2 separate regions of the Homo sapiens genome follow, and region 1 is linked to region 2. The links come from fine-mapping of genetic effects on gene expression. A gene starts in region 2. The other region holds a variant in brackets. All regions are shown on one strand. Distances are between the middles of the regions.

What was found. PIP is the estimated chance that this variant, and not a neighbour inherited with it, causes the effect.
Region 1: its variant is fine-mapped to the expression of RNF128 in lung (TOPMed, PIP 0.94).

The regions. Positions count from the first base shown.
Region 1 is chrX:106,684,953-106,696,904 of GRCh38, reverse strand. It overlaps a transcript of RNF128 not described here. Among named protein-coding and RNA genes, the nearest start is that of RNF128, 36 kb to the left of the region's middle. The variant T/C (reference allele first, on the strand shown) is at 3,729.
Region 2 is chrX:106,723,342-106,731,341 of GRCh38, reverse strand. RNF128 (ring finger protein 128) reads right to left here and starts at 4,641. Exons shown (of 7, transcript NM_194463.2): 1 at 3,945-4,641. The coding sequence starts at 4,428. RefSeq lists an enhancer at 4,206-4,794.

The DNA.
Region 1 (11,952 bases), 36 kb after region 2:
TTAACACCCTCTTAGTAGGATGCCCTGTGGTTTTCCATGGTGTGTGCTCTTCCAATTGCTGCAACAAGTAATAAATCTACCTTTTTAAACTACAGGTCTGTTGCTAGCGGTCTTTGGCTGGAGAGCACTGACATTAGAAAGAAGCAGAGAGACACAACATTGTGGAAGTGCTTAGTAAGACCTAGTACAGGATAATGGGACTGAAGGAATGAAGAGGTAGGGGGAGCCAGAGAAGAGTAGAAGAGTACAAGGGCCTGAGGGGGCTACAGTGTGATTTTCTGAAAAGGTGGTTTTTAGGGGGTAATACAAGATGAGATGACAGAAGGTGAAATCGTGAGCTTTATTGTAGGAGGATTTCCCCCATCCTCTGTGTCAAAACAAAACAAAACACGAGTGAAAAGACAGCAACAACAAACAAAATGTTGGCATAAAATAATGACAGTCTTTAATGATCTAGTGTCTGGTCATCTAGTTTTCATATCCACACTTGATTCCTTATGTTTGTCAGCTGCATCACTGAATAGTTTTTATATAAAGGAAATTTCTAGGAAGGAAAAAATCCAATGGCACACTATTTGGCAGGTCTTAAAAGGGCAAAATTCCAAATTTAGTTTTAATTCTTTGGGGTTGATATCATCATATGTTAAAAAACAATGTTCATTAAATAAACACACTATAACAGTGCCTGAAATATAGTAAATGCCAGTAAATGTTAACTATCACAGTTATGATCATTATGCTATCTTTTTCAATGTGTTTATTTTAAAATAGGTGCAATACTGTAGCTTTAAAATATTTTTGATCATGTGTCTTTGGTTATATTGGAGGTATATATTGAATGATAAGTCTAACTGCCTCCTTTTTAAAACTCTGTTCAGAGTCACATATTCAAATGATTATGCACATGTTTCTTTTGGAGAGATTTACTGTGAGTGATCTTTGGTAAATATTTCAAATTTACTGGCAGGGTACCTACATTCTACTAGATATTGGTCCCTAATACAGGTTGCAAAGAAAGTTTTGAAAACAGGACTACTATTTAGTTTGATACTGTTTGTATTTCAAAAATAGCAGGAGAGTGAATAAGTAGAATGTGTTCATGCAAAAGGAAACCCAGAGTATTCAGGATCTCTAAGTTTAAATGTATAGCAAGTTGGTTCCTTAGAACAGATTTAATTCCTAAGTTTTATCAGAAAATGGCATTAGTTTCTTTCTACAAAAATGAAAGTCACTCGTAAAAACACAGGAACAGGCAGGGAATGCTTATGAAATGCTCTTAGCTAGAAAATAATATAAAATGTGAATGTCTGAGCTCTTGCAGTGTCCAGGATGTGTCACAAAAGGTAGCACATGGAGTTTTGTTACATCTACAATAATTTTGTACTGCTGAAGTTCATCTTACTTGTTTTTTTGATGCTTAGCGAAATAAGCAGTTTGGTTTTCAAATATTAGTACCAAACAGTGATATTGTATGTGTACAACTTGGAACATTCCAAGCACCATACTATTCTTAACATAAGTTTGATTTTCTCCTTTTCATAATTCTAAAATCTGTTTAATTTAATTTGCATTAATTTTCTTAGAGGCCAAATTTGGCAATAACACCAATTATCAAAATTTTGTATTCATTTACTGTCAGCGCTTGCCTTGATTGAAATTATTCCTTTTTTTTTTTAGACCAAGTCTGATAAAAACACACATACCTATCCACAGTGAACAAAATGGGGTTCAGAAGTTTACTTCTTCATTGGTTTAAAAATCTATTTACTTGGAAACTGTTTTTTTAAATAAATAAAAACCAGTGATTTTCAGAAGTAACTCCTTTAAAAAGTTAATAAATTAGAAGTTTCTATTTACTTAAGAAGCCATTAGTAAATATTTCTAAGGGAAATCTTTATTTTCTTTGTTAATTACAGTGTTATCCTATTTCTGCCATACACTTTTCAATGGGTAATATCACGTTTTTGCAGATTCGTTTGTATCAGTCCCGCAAAAAGATTCAAATCTTACAAGCATACAGTAGAGTCAAGTTCTCATTTCTATAACATTTTACACACTTATAATATGCTATTATTTAAGCATAATGAAACTGTTTTGCAGTTTCACAAACTTGAAAACATACAATCCCTTTTGCAGGAGAAAATAAATCAAACTGAGAAGTGCAAATTAATAATGAAATTAAATTTTTTAATGTTTAGAGGTAAAGGCACAGTTTATTAAAAAGCAACTCACGATATAATGCCCACTGAGGAAACTTATATTGCTAAGAAAACATGAAAGAAAATAGGAATCACTTCATGAATTGCTACTGTCTTTGGAACAAATTAATTAAAAATATTAAATAATAATAAAGTAATTACAAGTTGTGCCAGGCAAGAAAATTTAAAGTAAAATTATTTTACAACCTTGTTGCCAGATCCTAGACCAGTTCTAGATGGAAATACCATTCTAAGATAAACGGACATTAACTCTCTTTGTGAATCAATTATTACTTACCAAAATTTGCCATCTGTATCGTCTGATTGCCAGTCTCTGGAGCATTGTAAATCACAACAGCATCAGCATTTCTTCTGCCCGCTGTTTGAATTTTTTCTGAAAATGTACAATTACCTCTTTCTATCAGCGCAATCCAGGGCTTCTTAGTATTACTAAACTCAGTGTTGTGGTCACAAGCTTGGTAGTTATTGTTCTTAGGGATGCCTACCACTCCCATAGCATTAGCCACTGGTGAAGCTAATCCATAAACGCCACATTCACATGTCTCTATTGCAGTGTAGTTGCTGGTTTCATTGTAATAAGTCACAGTCACATAGGCACTCATTGAAAAAGATGCTGTAATTTTAAGTAAAAAGGTAAAAATTACAAGGAGCCAAAAAAAACTGGACCTATTCTCCTGGTTCATTGCTCATTCATTTGAGTATAAAATTTAAGATGTTTGCTGATATTTCCAACTATCAGTCACCATTGTCCACTCACGTCCCTGCTGAACAGAAGTTTGAAATTTCAGTTGCACGTAGGTAACTGATCTCACCTCTAGCAACATAACCTCTGGATACATCAGCTCTATTTCACTTTAGTTATCTACATTCCCCTTTGCTTGCCCCTCCTCCAGCTGTACACACAGGTAACCCTTAACCAGGACTACCTTAGTAATAAATAACACCATCAACTTTATTCTACATGTCAACTTATTAGGATTGGATGACTTCCTGCAGTACATTTTTTTTTCTTCTTACTGTTCCAACTAATGCACTTTCATAAACATGGAGTGGATTGGAAAGAGGAACTGGACTCTGGGGAATCCCACGTGACAAGGCTGAAAGTTACCTCTCTCAGAATATCTAAAACACTAAACTGGTTTGCCAAGCCCTGCTGAAATATGCTATCAACCAGTTCAGCCTGGAGTAAGTTAAGATCCATGAGTTTAATTGCTATGGCATTAGTAGAATGAATTTTATTGCTTTTTTCTCTTCTAATTTCTCTCTCTCTCTCTCTCTCTCTCTCTGTGTGTGTGTGTGTGTGTGTGTGTGTGTGTGTGTGTGTTTTCTTAGCAGGCTCCCCAAGGGATATCCTCTGTTACCTTGTTTATTCGTTGGAAAACAAACATATTTCAGTAGCTAGAATTCCTTTCCTTTCAAGTATAGTGCCTTGCCCATGGCAGGCACTCAAATATTTGTTGATTGATTGATACCTGCAAGTTGCTGCATTCCATTAATTTTTGTGCCCCA[T/C]GTGTTATACTCTAAAAAAGGTTGTTGAAGGTTTAATTTTTAACATTTACATTTTTAAATTTTTAGTTCTCCCAGATGTATAGACAACTTTATTTGTTTCATTGCTTCCTTTAGTTCAAGCTCTGTTTTTATTCAGGAGCACACTGGACACTAAGAGCATTAGGACACATACGCTACGGGGTCAACTGGTCTGTGAAAATTGCTGGGATGGGGAGATTGCAATGTGTGCCAAGGGCTGATGAAGGAATAGATGAACGAACAAGACAAACAGAGATATCAGGAGTCTGACTGGGCCAAGAGTCAGCAAACTAGACAAACAGGCATCAGGCTTCCAGGGAAGCAAAAAGCTACCAGGTCAAAAGGAAGGTAGGGACAATGGTAGTCCAAGGTCCAAGTCAGGTAATCTGGAATCAGGAAGGTTTACTAGAGTCAAGGGGACAGGACAACCGAAAATAAAAAAATAGGAGACGTTGTTGATGGAGGTGGTCAATGAAGCTGTTTCTTCTCCCTACTTCTTGTCCGCTTTTAAACATCTGAAATATCAGTGTTGGAGTGGACCCTGCAGGTGAGAATTAACAGTTCACACCACTCAGCAGAGGGAAGGAGTTCAGGGAATCAGCAGCAGAACCTGCTGAATAAATCCCAGCAGATGTATAATACAAATATGAACCTTGCTATCATATCATAGCTGCCAATTACTCATTAGCGTACCCTCCCATAGTACCTGGTACTACTAGCATCATACACCTAGTAACAGCCTAATAATTCATATAATTGAACTGAAAAGATTAAAGGTCTTGTGTATTAGCTTATGGTCAATTTAAGAGTAAACACAAATAGTTCATTATTTTGCTACTAGCCCTATCATTTTGATGTGTTTTTAGGATCACAATAAAGCCTGTATTCACCAGAGAAAATTATCAGACTAAAAACAGAAATGTTATTATTGTTATTATAAATGTTGTCAAAACCATTAGCTTAGAGATTGCTGATGGACAGTCTTTTGTGATAAATTCAACATCAACATTCAACATTTAAATAATTAGTAAAATCCCAGAAATTTGATCTATCCTTTTCTGCCAATTAAATTACTCCTTAAAAAATCTTCTCATGAAAAACTTTAAAAGCAGATTAATGAGAAGTTACCTAAATCCATTAGAAGTCAAATTTTAAAAAATAATATTTCTTTGTTTATCTTAAGATTTCTTTTCATTATTTTGTGTAGGGATTTTTTCTTAGTTACATGATCATATTTATATATTTTTAAATTAGTTTTTCATTTAATATCTCAGTCATTATATATTTTATCTTATAATCTTTGTAGACAATGCTTTGTTGGATAAATGATATTCCATTAATGGAAATACCTCGGTTTACTTAGTCATTCCATTTTTGTTTGGTCAAAATTTTAAATAATATTTTTGCTATTATCATTTTGTTATAATAACTTTTTCTGTGTTTAAGATTATATCCTAACAGTTTTTTTCAGTGGATTTAATAGGTTGAAGTTTTGAACATTTAAAAAATCTTAACACATTTTACGTATTCAGGAAACAATTCAGGATAAAAATACACTAAGGAAAAGCTCTCCTGCCTCATTTCTCCTCCCATGTCTCCAGGGTAGTTACCAGAGGCTGGGAAGGGAAGGAGGAGGGAGGGATGAAGAGAAGTTGGTTAATGGGTACAAGAATACAGTTAGCTAGAAGGAAGAAGTTCTAGTATTCGATAGTACAGAAGGGTGAATATAGTTAGCAACAGTGTATGGTATATTTCAAAAACAGTTAGAAGAGAAGAATTGTAATGATCCCAACACAAAGAAAAGATAAATGTTTGAGGTGATGGATATCCCAATTACCCTGATTTTATCGATATACATTGCATGTGTCAAAATGTCACATGTACCCCATAAATATGCACAACTATAATCTATCAATAAAAAATACAAAAAGGCCAGGCACAGTGGCTCATGCCTGTAATCTCAGCATTTTGGGAGGTAGAGGCGTGCAGATTGCTTGAGCCCTAGAGTTTGAGACCACACTGGGCAACATGATGAAACCCCATCTCTATCAAAAAAAAAATAGCTGGTGTGGCGGTGTGCATCTGTGGTCCCAGCTACTCGGGAGGCTGAGGCAGGAGGATTGCTTGAGCCTGGGAGGTCGAGGATGCAGTGAGCTGAGATTGCACCACTGCACTTCAGCCTGGGTGACAGAGTGACTCTGTCTCAAAAAACAAAACAAGACAAAACAAAACAACCCAAGAAGGCACCATTCAATAAATGGTGATGGGACAATTGGCTAGTCAGTTAAAGAAGGAAAATAATCAGTTTGCTCCTCATTTCCTCCTCACAAAACACCCAAATAAATTACAGTTGGATTAAGTAATAATGTTTTTTGAAAAATTAAGAATTTTTTAAAACCAGCAGACACAGACCTGGGTATTTATTAAACCTTGTGAAAGGGAAAAGACTGTCATATCAGTGGAAAAAATTAAAGTGGAACATTTGCTCACTCAACAATATTGAACTATTTTAAATAGGCAGTGATACATTGGGGAAATATTTGTAGCAAATGCCCCAAAGGTATTTTATTACATGTTATTAAAGATCTTATACCCATGGAAAGCAAAGCAAATTAAAGAATAATATGCATACTATGACTTTCTTTTGGTAATAAAACCAAGCCTTCTTTGCATCTTTACAAAGAAGTGTAATTGTATGCACAAACAAGGAGAAAGGTAGGAAGACACACCCAGGCCTTTACCACTGGCTCCCTGTTAAATAATCTGAACATACTAGTTTCAAATCTTGACATATTTTTGCACAAGTTAAATCATTAAGTTCTGAAAAAAGGACAACTTGGATGGGTGCAGTGGCTCATGCCTGTAATCCCAGCACTTTGGGAGGCTGAGGCTGGCGGATTGCTTGAGCTCAGGAGTTCGAGACCAGCCTGGGCAACAAGACAAAACCCCGTCTCTCTATATATATATTTTAAAAAAATACAAATAAAATAAATTTTAAACAATGACAACTTTCCCATAACATCTTGTGCCAGTGTTGGTGTAATAAGAGAACATTCCTAAGCTATTATGTTACATTGCACTGGAGGTTGAAGTACATAACTTAAACTTGAAAATAAAATTTTTGTGTGTGGGTAGGTGTATTCATGGGGAACATGAGATATTTGAATACAGGCATGCAATGTGTAAAAATCACATCAGGGCAAATGGGATATCCATCACCTCAAGCATTTATCTTCACTTTGTGTTATAAACAATCCAATTATACTCTTCTGGTTATTTGTAAATGTACAACAAATTGTTCCTCTGTTGTGCTATCAAATACTAGATCTTATTCATTCTATCTAACTATATTTTTGTACCCAACAACCATCCCTGCTTCTTCCCTCTGCACTACTCTTGCAGGCCTTGTAACCAACCTTTATCTTTCTATATCCATGAATTCAATTGTTTTAATTTTTATCTTCCACAAATAAGTGAGAACATGCAAAGTTTGTCTTTCTGTGCCTGGCTTATTTCACTTAACATGATGATCTCCAGTTCTACCTATGTTGTTGCAAATGACAGAATCTTATTCTTTTTTATGGCCAAATAGTGCTCTATTATGTACATATACCACATTTTCTTTATTCATTCGTCTGTTGATGGACGCTTAAGTTGATTCCAAATCATGGTTATTGTGAATAGTGCTGCAATAAACATAGGGGTATAGATATATCTTCGATATGTTGAGTTCCTTTCTTTTGTATGTAGACCTAACAGTGGGATTGCTGGATCTTATGGCAGTTCTAGTTTAGTTTTTTGAGTAACCTCCAAACTGTTCTCTATAGTAGTTGTATCAGTTTACATTTCTACCAACATTATATGAAAGTTCTCTTTTCTCCACATCCTCATCAGTATTAATTATTGCCTGTCTTTTGGATAAAAGCCATTTTAACTGGGGTAAGATGATATCTCATTGTAGCTTTGTTTTGTATTTCTCTGATGATCAGTGATGTTGAGCACATTTTCGTGAATCTGCTTGCCATTTGTATGTCTTCTTTTGAGAAATCTTTTATCAGATCTTTTGCCCATTTTGATTGGATTATTAGATTTTGTCCTGTAAGTTGCTTGTGTTCCTTATATATTTTGGTTATTAATCCCTAGTTTATAGATGAATAGTTTGCAAATATTTTCTCCCATTTTGTGAATTGTCTCTTCACTTTGTTGATTGCTTCCTTTGCTGTGCAGAAGCTTTTTAACTTGATGTGAACTCATTTGTCCATTTTTTATTTGATTGCCTGTGCTTGTAGAGTATTACTGAAGAAATCTTTGCCCTGTCCAATGACCTGGAGAGTTTCCCCAATGTTTTCTTGCAGTAGTTTCAGAGTTTGAAGTCTTAGATTTAAGTCTTTAATTGATTTTGATTTGATTTTTGTATATGGTGAGAGATAGGGTCTAGTTTTATTCCTCTGCGTATGGATATCCAGTTTTCCCATCACCATTTATTGAAGAGACTGTCCATTCCCCAATGTAGGTTCTTGGCATATTTGTTGAAAATGAGTTCACTTTAGATGTATGGATTTATTTCTGGTTTGTCTATTCTGTTCCTTTGGTCTCTGTGTCTGTTTTCATACCAGTGCCATGCTGTTCTGGATACTATAGCTGTGTAGTACAATTTGAAGTCAGGTAATGTGATTCCGCCAGTTTTGTTCTTTTTGTTCATGATCACTTTGGCTATTCTGAATCTTGTGGGGTTTTATATAAATATTAGGAATTTTCATTTTCTCTTTGTGAAGAATGTCATTGGTATTTTAGTAGGGATTGTGTTGAATCCCATAGATCGCTTTGGGTATTGTGGACATTTTAACAATATTGGTTCTTCCAATCCATAAACATGGACTATCTTTTCTTTTTTTTTGGCCTCTTCAATTTCTTGAGTCAATGTTTTATAGTTTTCATTTTAGAGGTATTTTATTTCTTTGATTAAGTTTACTCCTCTGTATTTTATTTTGTTTTTAGCTTTGCTAAGTGGAATAAATTTTTTGGTCTCCTTTTCAGATTGTTTGCTATCAGCATATAGAAATGCTACTAACTTTTTTATGTTGATTTTGTATCCTGCAACGTTACTGAATTTATTTATCTGTTCTAGTAGTTTTCGGTGGAATCTTTAGATTTTCCTACTACAAGATCATATCATCAGCAAAGAAGGATAATTTGACTTTTTCCTTGCCAATTTAAATGCCCTTTATTTCTTTCTCTTGTCTGATTGTTTTAGGTAGGATTCTCAGTACAATGTTGAATAATGGTGAAAGTGGGCATCCTTGTCATGTTCCAGATCTTAGAGGAAATACTTTCAGTTTTTCCCCATTCAACATGATACTTGCAATGGGTCTGTTATATATAGCTTTTATTGTGTTGAGGTATGTTCTTTCTATATGCAGTTCTCTGAGGGTTTTTATCATGAAGCGATGTGAACTTTATCATAATGTTTTTCAGCATCAATTGAAATGATCATGTGGTTTTTGTCCTTTATTCTGTTGATATGATGTATCACATTGATTGACTTTTGTGTGTTGAGCCATCCTTGCATCCTTGGGATAAATCCCTCTTAGTCATGATGAGTGAACTTTTTAATGTGTTGTTAAATTTGGTTTGCTAGTATTTTGTTGAGGATTTTTGCATCAATATATATCAGGGATATTGACCTGTAGTTTTCTTTTTGTTGATTTATCTTTCCCTGGTTTTGGTATCAAGTTAATACTGACCTCATAGGAGTTTGGAAGTATTCCCTCTTTCTCTGTTTTATGGAATAGTTTGAGTAGAATTGGTATTAGTTCTTCTTAAATATTTGGTAGAACTCAGCAGTGAAACCATTTGGTCTCCTGTTTTCCTTTACTGGGAAAATTTTTATTATGGCTTAGGTCTCGTTACTTGTTATTGGCCTGTTAAGGTTTTGGATTTCTTCATTGTTCAATGTTGGAAGGTCGTATAAGTCTAGGAATTTAGCCATTTCTTCTAAGTTTTCCAATTTATTGGCATATAATTGCTCATAGCAGCCTTAAATGATCCTTCAAATTTCTGTAGTATCAGTTGAAATGTTTCCTATTTTCACCTCTGATTTTATTTATTTGTATCTTCCCTCTTTTTTTCTTAGCTAGTTTAGCTAAAGATTTGTCAATTTTATTTATCTTTTGAAAAAAACGAGTTTTTGTTTCATTGATGTTTCGTATTTCTGTAAATTTCATTTTCATTTATTTCTGCTCTGATCTTTATTACTTTTCTGTACCAATTTCAGATTTTGTTTGCTCTTGCTTTTCTAGTTCTTTAAGATGTATTGTTAGGTTGTTTATTTGAAGTTTTCCTACTTTTAAAATGTAGGTGCTTACTGCTATAAACTTTCCTCTTAGCACTGCTTTTGCTGTATATGATACATTTTGATATGTTGTATTTCTATTATCATTTGTTTCAATACATTTTTCGTTTTGTTCTCAGTTTCTTCATTGACCCATGGGTCATTCAGGAGCATATTATTTAATTTCTATATGATTGTATAGTTTCAAAAATTCCTCTTGTTACTGATATCTAGTTTTATTCTATTGTGGGCAGAAAATATATTTGATATAATTTCATTATTTTTTGAATTTTAAAAACTTGTTTTGTGGACTAATATATGGTCTATCATTGAGAACGATCCACGTGGTGAGGAGAAGAATGTGTATTCTGCAGCCATTGGATGAAATGTCCTGTAAGTATCTATTAGGTCCATTTGGTCTATAGTGCAGATTAAGTTCAATGTTTCTTTGTTGATTTTCTGCCTGGAAGATCTGTCTAATGCTGAATGTAGGGTGTTGAAGCCTCTAGCTATTATTTTTTGAGGTCTTTCTGTCTTTAGCTCTAATAATATTTATTTTATATATCTAGATACTCTAGTGTTGGGTGCATATACATTTACAATTGTTATATCCTCTTTCTGAATTGACCCCTTTATCATTATGTAATGATCTCTGTCTCTTCTTACAATTTTTGTCTTGAAATATATTTTGTCTAATGTAAGGATAGCTACTCCTGCTCTTTTTTGGGTTTCCTTTGGCAGGGAATATATTTTTCTATCCCTTTATTTTCAGTCTACATGTGTCTTTAGAGGTAAAGTGTGTTTTTCATAGATAGCAGATAATCGGGTCTTGTTTTTTGTTTCATCCATTCAGCCATTGTCTATCTCTTGATTGGAAAGTTCAGTTCATTTATATTCAATCTTATTATTGATAATTAAGGGCTTACTCTTGACACTTAGTTATTTGTTTTCTGGTTGTTTTGTGGTCTTCTCTTCCTTCTTTCCTTCATTGCTGTGTTCCCTTTAGTAAAGGTGATTTTCTCTGGTGTTATGACTTCTTGATTTTTATTTTTTGTGTACTTGTTGTAGGTTTTTTAATTTGAGGTTGCCACGAGGCTTGCAAATGATATTTTATAACTAATTATTTTAAACTGATAACTACTTAACACTGATTGCATAAATAAACAAACAAACAAGCAAAGAGAAAACTGATAAAACTCTATACTTTAACTTCATCCTCCCATGTTTTAACTTTTTGTTTTTTCTATTTATATTTTATTATACTATCTATTTCTTGAAAAGTTGTTGTAGTTTTTATTTTTGGTAGGTTCATCTCTTAGTCTTTCTACTCAAGATATATGTAGTTTAGATACCACAAATACAGTGTTATAATATTTTGTGTTTTTCTGTGTACTTACTATTACCAGTGAGTTTTGTCTCTTCAGATGATTTCTTATGACTCATTAACATCCTTTTCTTTTGGATTGAAGAACTCCCTGTAGCATTTTTCACAGGACAGGTCTGGTGTCAATGAAGTCCCTCAGCTTCCGTTTGTTTGGGAAAGTCTTTATTTCTCCTTCATGTTTTAAGAATATTTTATCTGGATAGTCTATTCTAGGATGAAAGTTTCTTTCCTTCAGTACTTTAAATATGTCATGCTACTCTCTCCTGGCTTGTAAGGTTTCCACTGAAAAGTTTGCTGCCAGGCATATTGGAGCTCCTTGGTATGTTAGTTGTTTATTTTCTCTTACTGCTTGTAGGATCCTTTCTTTATCCTTGACCTTTGGAAATTTATTACTTAATGCGTTGAGGTAGTCTTCTTTGGGTTAAATCTGGTTGGTGTTCTATAATTTTCTTGTACTTGAATATTCCTATCTTTCTCTAGGTTTGGGAAGT
Region 2 (8,000 bases):
AAGCAGTTATTTGAGAAAAGTACAACAAACATAGGAGGACCAAAAGATCTTTTTCCTGTTAAAATTCAGTCTACCCTCCGTACCTAAAGGGATCAAATTAGAATTTCAGGTAATGTGGACTTTGAAGTACTCTAGACTGTTCATTTCCAATTATGTTCTACAAACACAGGATTCAACTTTCATTTTCTAAAATATATTTAACTGTGATTAAAACATAATAGTAGCTTCCTATATGTCAGACACTGTGCTAAACGCTTTATCTGCATTATCTCATTGAATCCCAGCAACCTTAGGAGGCAAGTTTATTATTATGCCTACCTTACATAGGAGAAAACTGAGACTTAGAGAAGTAAAATAACTGGCCTAAGATTTAAAAAATACTAATTGGCAGAGCACAACCTCTTAACTAATCTGTTCCACTATCTTTCAACAATGTACACAAGCAACTGTGTTATATATCAAACTGTATCCCATTGGAGACCCCCAAATCATTAATTAAACTGCTTGGTTCATTCACTTTTTTTTTTTACAGCCCTCAGGAATAATGCTTCTCCTGACATCCCTTTGCATATGTTTTATGCATAACGTTGTAAATGTTTCATGAATTATGAAGGTTGTAGTTCTGCACCAGTCTTTCAATAAATTCATGCCTACAATGTTGACTCAAGGAAAATTGTACAAGCAAGTATACATATCTCTTCAACCTGTGGGTTGTGCTCAATTAGACACCAGGCAAAGCTCAGGCCCATCTGCCTGGCGTAAGCAGAACAGTTTGTTGTGCAATAGTGAGAACATGCTTAACGTGTCTCGTGACAATCTTACATTTTAGATGGTTTTAATGCTTACTTTAAGATTTGGCCACTTATCTGACTTTCATTTTTAAGATAAGAAATTTGAATAGTAATTACACTTTGGAATAAAAATTTTCTCCTAATTTCCTTTCAGGTTTCTGCACTGATTTGATTGAAATATATCCAGAGATTGCAAGCCAAACTGCCAATAAGCATCTGTCATTTGCAATTATTTATCTGTGTGAATCAGAATTTTCTGAATACTCTGCAAACAAAATACAGAAATAAACTGCATGAGTTGATGTTAGGCTACAATTAACTTTTGAAAAATTTTGGTATACATAAAAGTCTCATTTTCCTAATTGATTGCTCTTATATAGTGGAGTTTCTTTCTCCTAAACAAAAATTTTAAAGCAACTGTTCTAAATTAGTTAGGTGGGAATATAGACACTCAGCACAAACTCTAACCAAGGGCAAACAATTCAAGTGCAGGCCCCTATGAGAGTGAGTGAAGAGAGATTTTGTAAACAAAGAAGATACAGAAGGCTTTTCCACATTTGGTGGCCCCTTCGTAATTCACAGCAATATATAATGAACTAATCCATACTTAAATCTCAGTCCTATCTCTCTGCCACTATGATCCAAGATAAGTTTTTGACCAGAGGTTAAAAGGAAACCCTAGGCTTACTCTGAGGAATGAGTAAAGCAAACAATATAACACTTTGCAAACAAATATTCAATAACACATGTGGATAATATGCAGTGATTTTCCCCCTATATTGAAAAATAGTTTTTCCAGGAGTTCAAGGAGAAATGTGATTCCTTACCTCAAGTAATTTGCTGGTTTTATCTAGTTAGCTTGATGGCAAACTTTGGTATAGCCTTTATCTCAGATAATATTGTTTTTAAAGTATCAAAATGCTTTTCTGAATGTAGTGTAATTTAGTGATCAATATTTAGGGCTTTATTCCTATATGGTATCCTGAAACACAACACCCATAGTTAGATTCTCAGTGTATTCATGTCTTCAAATCGACAGTTGCACAATCATACATTTGTACATTATTTTTTTGCATCCTGTTAGCATTAACCTATTATAACATTCAGTGACTATTATCAGCTGGGTAGTATATATATATATAATCCTTAATAATCACAGCAACATAAATATTATCTCCATCTTACAGATGGGGTATCCAAGGCTCAGTAAAGTTAAATAATCCTACCAAGGACACAAAGCTATTGTGTGGTAAATCCAGAATTTTATTCCCAATCTTGACTAAAATGCCTGTGTTTTTCTTAGTACACCATATTGCCTCTCAATAAAGTATAAGTAATATGTATGTAGAGTGCCTGGCATATAGTGGGAGCCAAGCAAAAGTTAATTTTATTGTCTCCTAAAACTATCAGATAAATACCCTTAACAGAAGTAAAAGGAAAATGGTCTAAGTAGGACTCTGTAATTAAATACTCTTCAATTACAAATCATTCATGCAAATGAATCTCATTAGAAGACAAAGTCAAACCCTTGCTATTAGACAGTCAACTGAAATATAAAGACTATAAACTTTATTAGGTCTTTATTCTTGATTTTCAGTAACTTCTAAAAGCTACTGATTCATTCTAATCAATGAATTATCGGCCAAGAGAGATACAGTTTCTCCTTTAATCAATATAAAAACTAAAAATCATAGCATTTTAGATCTGAAAGGGATCTTAGAGTTCATCTACTTTTGTTTTGTTTCAGTACACGCTTCTAACTTGGCCTCCACTGCCTATACAATCATTTGACATGTGAGTAACTTGTACAAGGTTACAAAGTCGGTAGAGGCAAAGAAGGGGCTAAAAGAACTCAAATCTCCTGAGTTCCAATTCAGTGTTCTTTCCATTACGCCATCCAGCCACTCAATACAAGTGCTCTCTAGGCAGGTTCAGTCATAAGGTTTTAAGAAAAACAGAAAACCTCCAGTAGTCAAATAAGCAGCTTCTTCCTTCCAGTGACTCCCAGAAGGCTAATCCTATCAGCTAACCCTTACTGAGAGTGGATGATGTGCTTTACTGCACTAAACTCTTTAAGGCATTATTTCATTTTATCCTGAAGGCAAACTTGTGGATAAGTTTTCTTATTATTCATTCTCATTTGACTGATGAGAGAACCCAGACTCTAAGACTTGAAATAAGTTGCCCAAGGTCACAGGACTAGTAAGCAACAGAGTAGGAATTTAAACCAAGCTCTGACTTGAGGCCCAGCTCTTAAAAACTATGATACACTGCTATTACACGTGTCTCTTTCTTTTTCTCCATTTTTTTCCCCTTTGTCCTTTAGGGTCTAGGATAACTATATACATAAGGTATGGATACCTAATCACAAATAGGGAAGTTTGTGGAAGGATAACCGACGGGGAAAAATAGTAACCTCATACCATCTCCAAGAATTTAAGAACTACCTGGACTATTTTTTTTTCCAAAGTCTAGGCCTTTGCTATCCTCATGCAGAAACCTCTTCTTTTTCAAGAACGTTAGTCACCTGTTTTGCAACTCAATAACCTAAATCAGATTTTTCAGAAGCAAACAAAAGCACTGATACCAAGTCACTTGGGACTTGAGACCACTGGGCAGAGAAGAACCCAAGAACTAAGCAAAGTTTCCACCAAAATTGCAATGAGGTTAACAGGGCACAGTAGCACAATCTAGTATTTGATACCCAGGAAACATGGAGAGAAAAACAGGGAGAGGAGGGGAAAATCTGCTGCCAGTCTGAGGTTGTTAAAAAGCAGAGTGAGGAAGAGATTTCCAGGTGATCTCCTCGGTCATTTAAGACCCGATGCCCACCACCACTTAATCCAAGGCTAGACACCCTTGTGAAAAACCAGGAAAAGGGAACGCAAAGAGCTCAAACAGTCCTTGATTTGCCAGCCTCTGCACCCGGTTTGTTTTACCCTTTTCCACCAGAGAGGCAAATGAAGGATTTTTTTTTGCCCAACACCCAGGCCTGGTGAATCTCGGGGAGGACCCTGCCCCACTCCGTGGGGACAGAAAGAGCACCCACTTTCCTTCGGAGCAAGGGGATAGGACGAGGAGGGCAATGAGGAAAATAAGAGAAACTGGCCATGGCAGAGGTCTGGAGGGGTGCAATCTAGTAGCTGCACTCACCCGGGTGAGACATGGGGATGACCTCATTGCGGGTCCCGGGGAAGTTAAAGATGACGGCTCCAGACGCCCCTCTCTCATAAGCCAGATGGATCTTGTCTGCGAAGGTGCAGCCCCCGCCGCGTTGGATGAGGGCCAACCAAGAGACTTGCACGGTGCTTCCCCAAACCGTGGGCACCGTGAAATTCGTGTGCGGGTTACAGGCGTTAAGCGCCCCGGGCCCGTCGGGCGGTACCAGGACCCCAGCCACAGGCTCCAGCGGCGAGTCCTGGCCGTACACGCCCTCCTCGCTCAGCTCCCACACCGTACGGTTCACTCCCGTGTGCGGAACCCGCCAGGACACGTTGAGGTACGCGGTCCACACTGCTTCAGCCCCCCGGGAACCGGGTGCCTGCGGACTCAGGGCCAGCAGGAAGCACCATGCCAGCAATCTGGAAAAGCCGCAGCCACCGCGGCAGGAGACCCCGGCCCCAGGCGGCGGCCCCATGGCGCGCGCGCTCCGCAGTTCCCTAGCGCCCCTGGCACGCGCCCTCCTAGCGCTTGGCAGGACCCTGGTCTTGAGCAGGTGCGCGCCAGGTGGGGAAGGAATGGAGTGAGACTGGGGAGCTGCGAGCTACGTCGGAGCCAGGAGGCACGTAGCGTCAGCACACAGGTTGCCGCAGATGCAGCTCCTCGGAGCTCCAGTCTTCTCCGCTACCGCGGCTGCCGCGTCGGGCTCTGGGGCTTTAGCGTGAAGCTCCGCCCAGCCGACTGGGGGTAGAGGTGGCTGGGAGGGAGGAAAGGACACTGCGGGATCCGCCTCTTAAAAGGGTAACAGGATGGATCGATGTTAGAATAGGATCTGAGGCTGTGTGGCTAGGTGTGTCGCGTCGTTTTATAAAAAACGGACAGGCGAGGAACGATAAAGTCCGCAAACATAAAGCTTTCTGGCAGGATTCGAGTCGGTTTTGAATTGCAAGAATACATTTTTCCCTCCTAACATTTGCCTAAAGGACATTTCGGGCTTACGGTGCCAGAATGTGAAGTACAGTACTTCTAAAAAGCGCAGATCCAAAGGGTCTGAGTTGTAGTCAAGGGAATTTGGGTAGGGAAGGAATTTGAGTAGAATCAGGCTATTTACTGATTCTCTAGAGGGGGGAAGGGCAGGAAAAGCGCGCTGTTACCCTTTCTTACTGACTTCAAATGGCACCTTTCTCTTTCCCTGCTCCTAAGAAGCCTCATACATGTGTATTTCCTCACCGTTACCCTAGGTTTCATGTACCGCATCAGATGCCTCTTCTAAAACTAATTTTAGTCCTCACAAAAGAATGACTGTTTTCACACACCTCAGAACCAAGCCTTTCTTCTGCATTTTTCACAAACCTGACTTACCCTAGCGGATGTTCCTGCGCTATTCATGACCTTAACTACATAATCTTTCTCCATTTCCCACTAACTGAAAGGAGCCTGACTCGCCTAGGCGATTCACTCATGGCATTATTACATTACGATTTATCCTTGCTTAAGTATTCAATTTTTGTCTACCCTGTCAACTATTATATTTACTAGATGGTTAACAAATGAGCCTTGAATTAAGCTGAATTAATATACCTGCTGTCTGATAGTTATGAATAACTTTTGACCTTGGGGAACTTCCCTGTGGCTCAGTTTCCTCATCATCTGTAAAAGGGGGATAATAATTGCACCTACCTCACAGAGTTTTCAGATGATTAAATGAGTTAATACATGTAATAAAGCACTTAGAACAATGCTTAGCAATATAAAAAACATGTTAAAATTATTAAACAGGTTCAGAGACACAATTCTAAAATAATATTAAAGTTTTAATTTGAGGTAATATCAGAGAAAATGATGTTCAAGATGTTCAGTCTTAGCCACTTTTTCAGTTCAAATAAATACAGTCTACTTTATGCAGCTCAACATTTGTTAAATTTCTGATCAATTACTCCCCTCAATCCCTGGCCCAGCATTTACTTAATCAATGTTATTTACAAAGATTAAGCATGGACCAATTCTGTACTTGATACTCTTATGGCTTGAGAGAAACCTAGAGGAAAATTAACATCATATACCAAACAACACCTAGAACATAAATAAATGTGCAATTTTGTGAAACATATACTCTTAGGTATTGAAAAGGACTTTAGAGGTCAAAGTGGGTATATGAGACCAATAGCATGGTACCCCCAAATACTGATGGTAATCTCTGAGATAAAAATTACCTAGGGGAAAAATGGGTAGGACCAACCACCTCTGAGAAATGGTACAATTCCAGAAATTGTCTGATTTTGCTGGTGAAGAGCATTCAAAATTCAATTGATATTACCTGAATGACAGCCAACTATATTGTACTTTGAAGAAACAATGTGTTCAGAAGAAAGAAGGTATTTTATAGCTACAAAAATGAAGTTCAGAGAGACATTTATTAATGTTTTTCCATTCATTATTTTCTTAAATATTTGTTGTACATCTGCCATAAGCCATGGGCTGAGCATTGTGGTGCAAAATCAAATAAGACATCAACTCTCCTATCAAGAAGCTCATAAATTAGTTTTGATGAGAAGGACAAGTAAAATGGAAAGTGCAGTATAGAGTGATATATGTATATAGTGTAAGCACTATGATGGAGATATGACAGGGTAGTAGTGGATAACAGAGAAGCACCTAACCCAGACTGAGAAGTAAGGAAAAGCTTCCCAGAGGAGGTTAGACCTGGGCTGAGTTTGAGACAGTAAACTTTTCTAGGCAGAAAACAACACAAGGAAAGGCATTGAAATATGAAAAAGAAATGTTAGGAAGCTACAATTACTACAGGCCCAGTAAATGCAAAATGGTTGGAACCTAAAGTAACAGAGGGAGGGTGGTAACAGATCATGTTGGAGAGGTACATGGGGGCCAGTTCTTGAGAGTCCTTTGGGTAAAGCTAGGGAGTTTAGACTTTATCCAAAAACGAGGAGTAATATAATCAGGGTTTAATCAGGGAGTAATAGAATCAGATCTGAAGTTTAGAGATCCTTCTCTGTGGATAATAGATTGGAGGGAATGAGAATAGCAGCAGGGAGCCCATACAGAAGATGGTTGGCAGTGCTACAGGTGAGAGATGAAGATGGCTTGGATAGACAGGTAGTGGACATGAAGAGAAGTGGGCAGAATGGGAATGTTCTTTGGTGGTAGAATCAACAGGACTTGGTTTGGGGGATGAAAGAGAAGGAGGAGTTAGAAATTACTCTGAGGTTTTTGACTTGGAAGACTAGATGACATTCAATCAGGGAATACAGGAGGAGGGTTTTAAATGTATAGAATGGGTAGAAGGAGAGATGAGTTCACTTTAGATATGTCGATTTTGAGGTGCCTATGATGTAACCAGGTAGAACTGTGTGATAGGCAGTTGAGTTTCCGATCACTGAACACCTACTAAGTGCAAAGCATGGGAGAGACAGGGGTGTAGAGAGACAAAAGAAACAGCCCTTGCCTTCAATGAGCTCATGGTCTAGTGAGACAATCAGAGAGATAAACTATCAATAACAGTACAGTGTAATACATGTTATGACTGAGAAAAGTATAAGGCGCTAGGGCAAGACAAGTGTGACTGAGTCTTTAAGTACAAATGGAGTGACCCAAGCAAAGAGAGTAAGGATTTTCAGGCACAGGCAAGAGTATATTATATGAGAACTCCAAAGAACATTCAGGGAACTAGCATTCAGTAGTTCGGTATGGTTGGGATATAAAGTTGCAAAGGTGGAGCCAAGGGAAGTGAAGCTAGTCAAATAACTTGTGCCAGAACATGAAAAGTTTAGAAAATTATACATACATACATATATATATATATATTTTAGACAGAGTTTTGCTCTTGTTGCCCAGGCTGTAGTGCAATGGCATGATCTTGGCTCACTGCAACCTCTGCCTCCCAGGTTTAAGCGATTCTCCTGCCTCAGCCTCCCAAGTAGCTGGAATTACAGGCGCGTGCCACCATGCCCGGCTAATTTTTGTATTTTTAGTAGAGACGGGGTTTCACCATGTTGGCCAGGCTGGTCTCGAACTCCTGACCTCATGATCTGC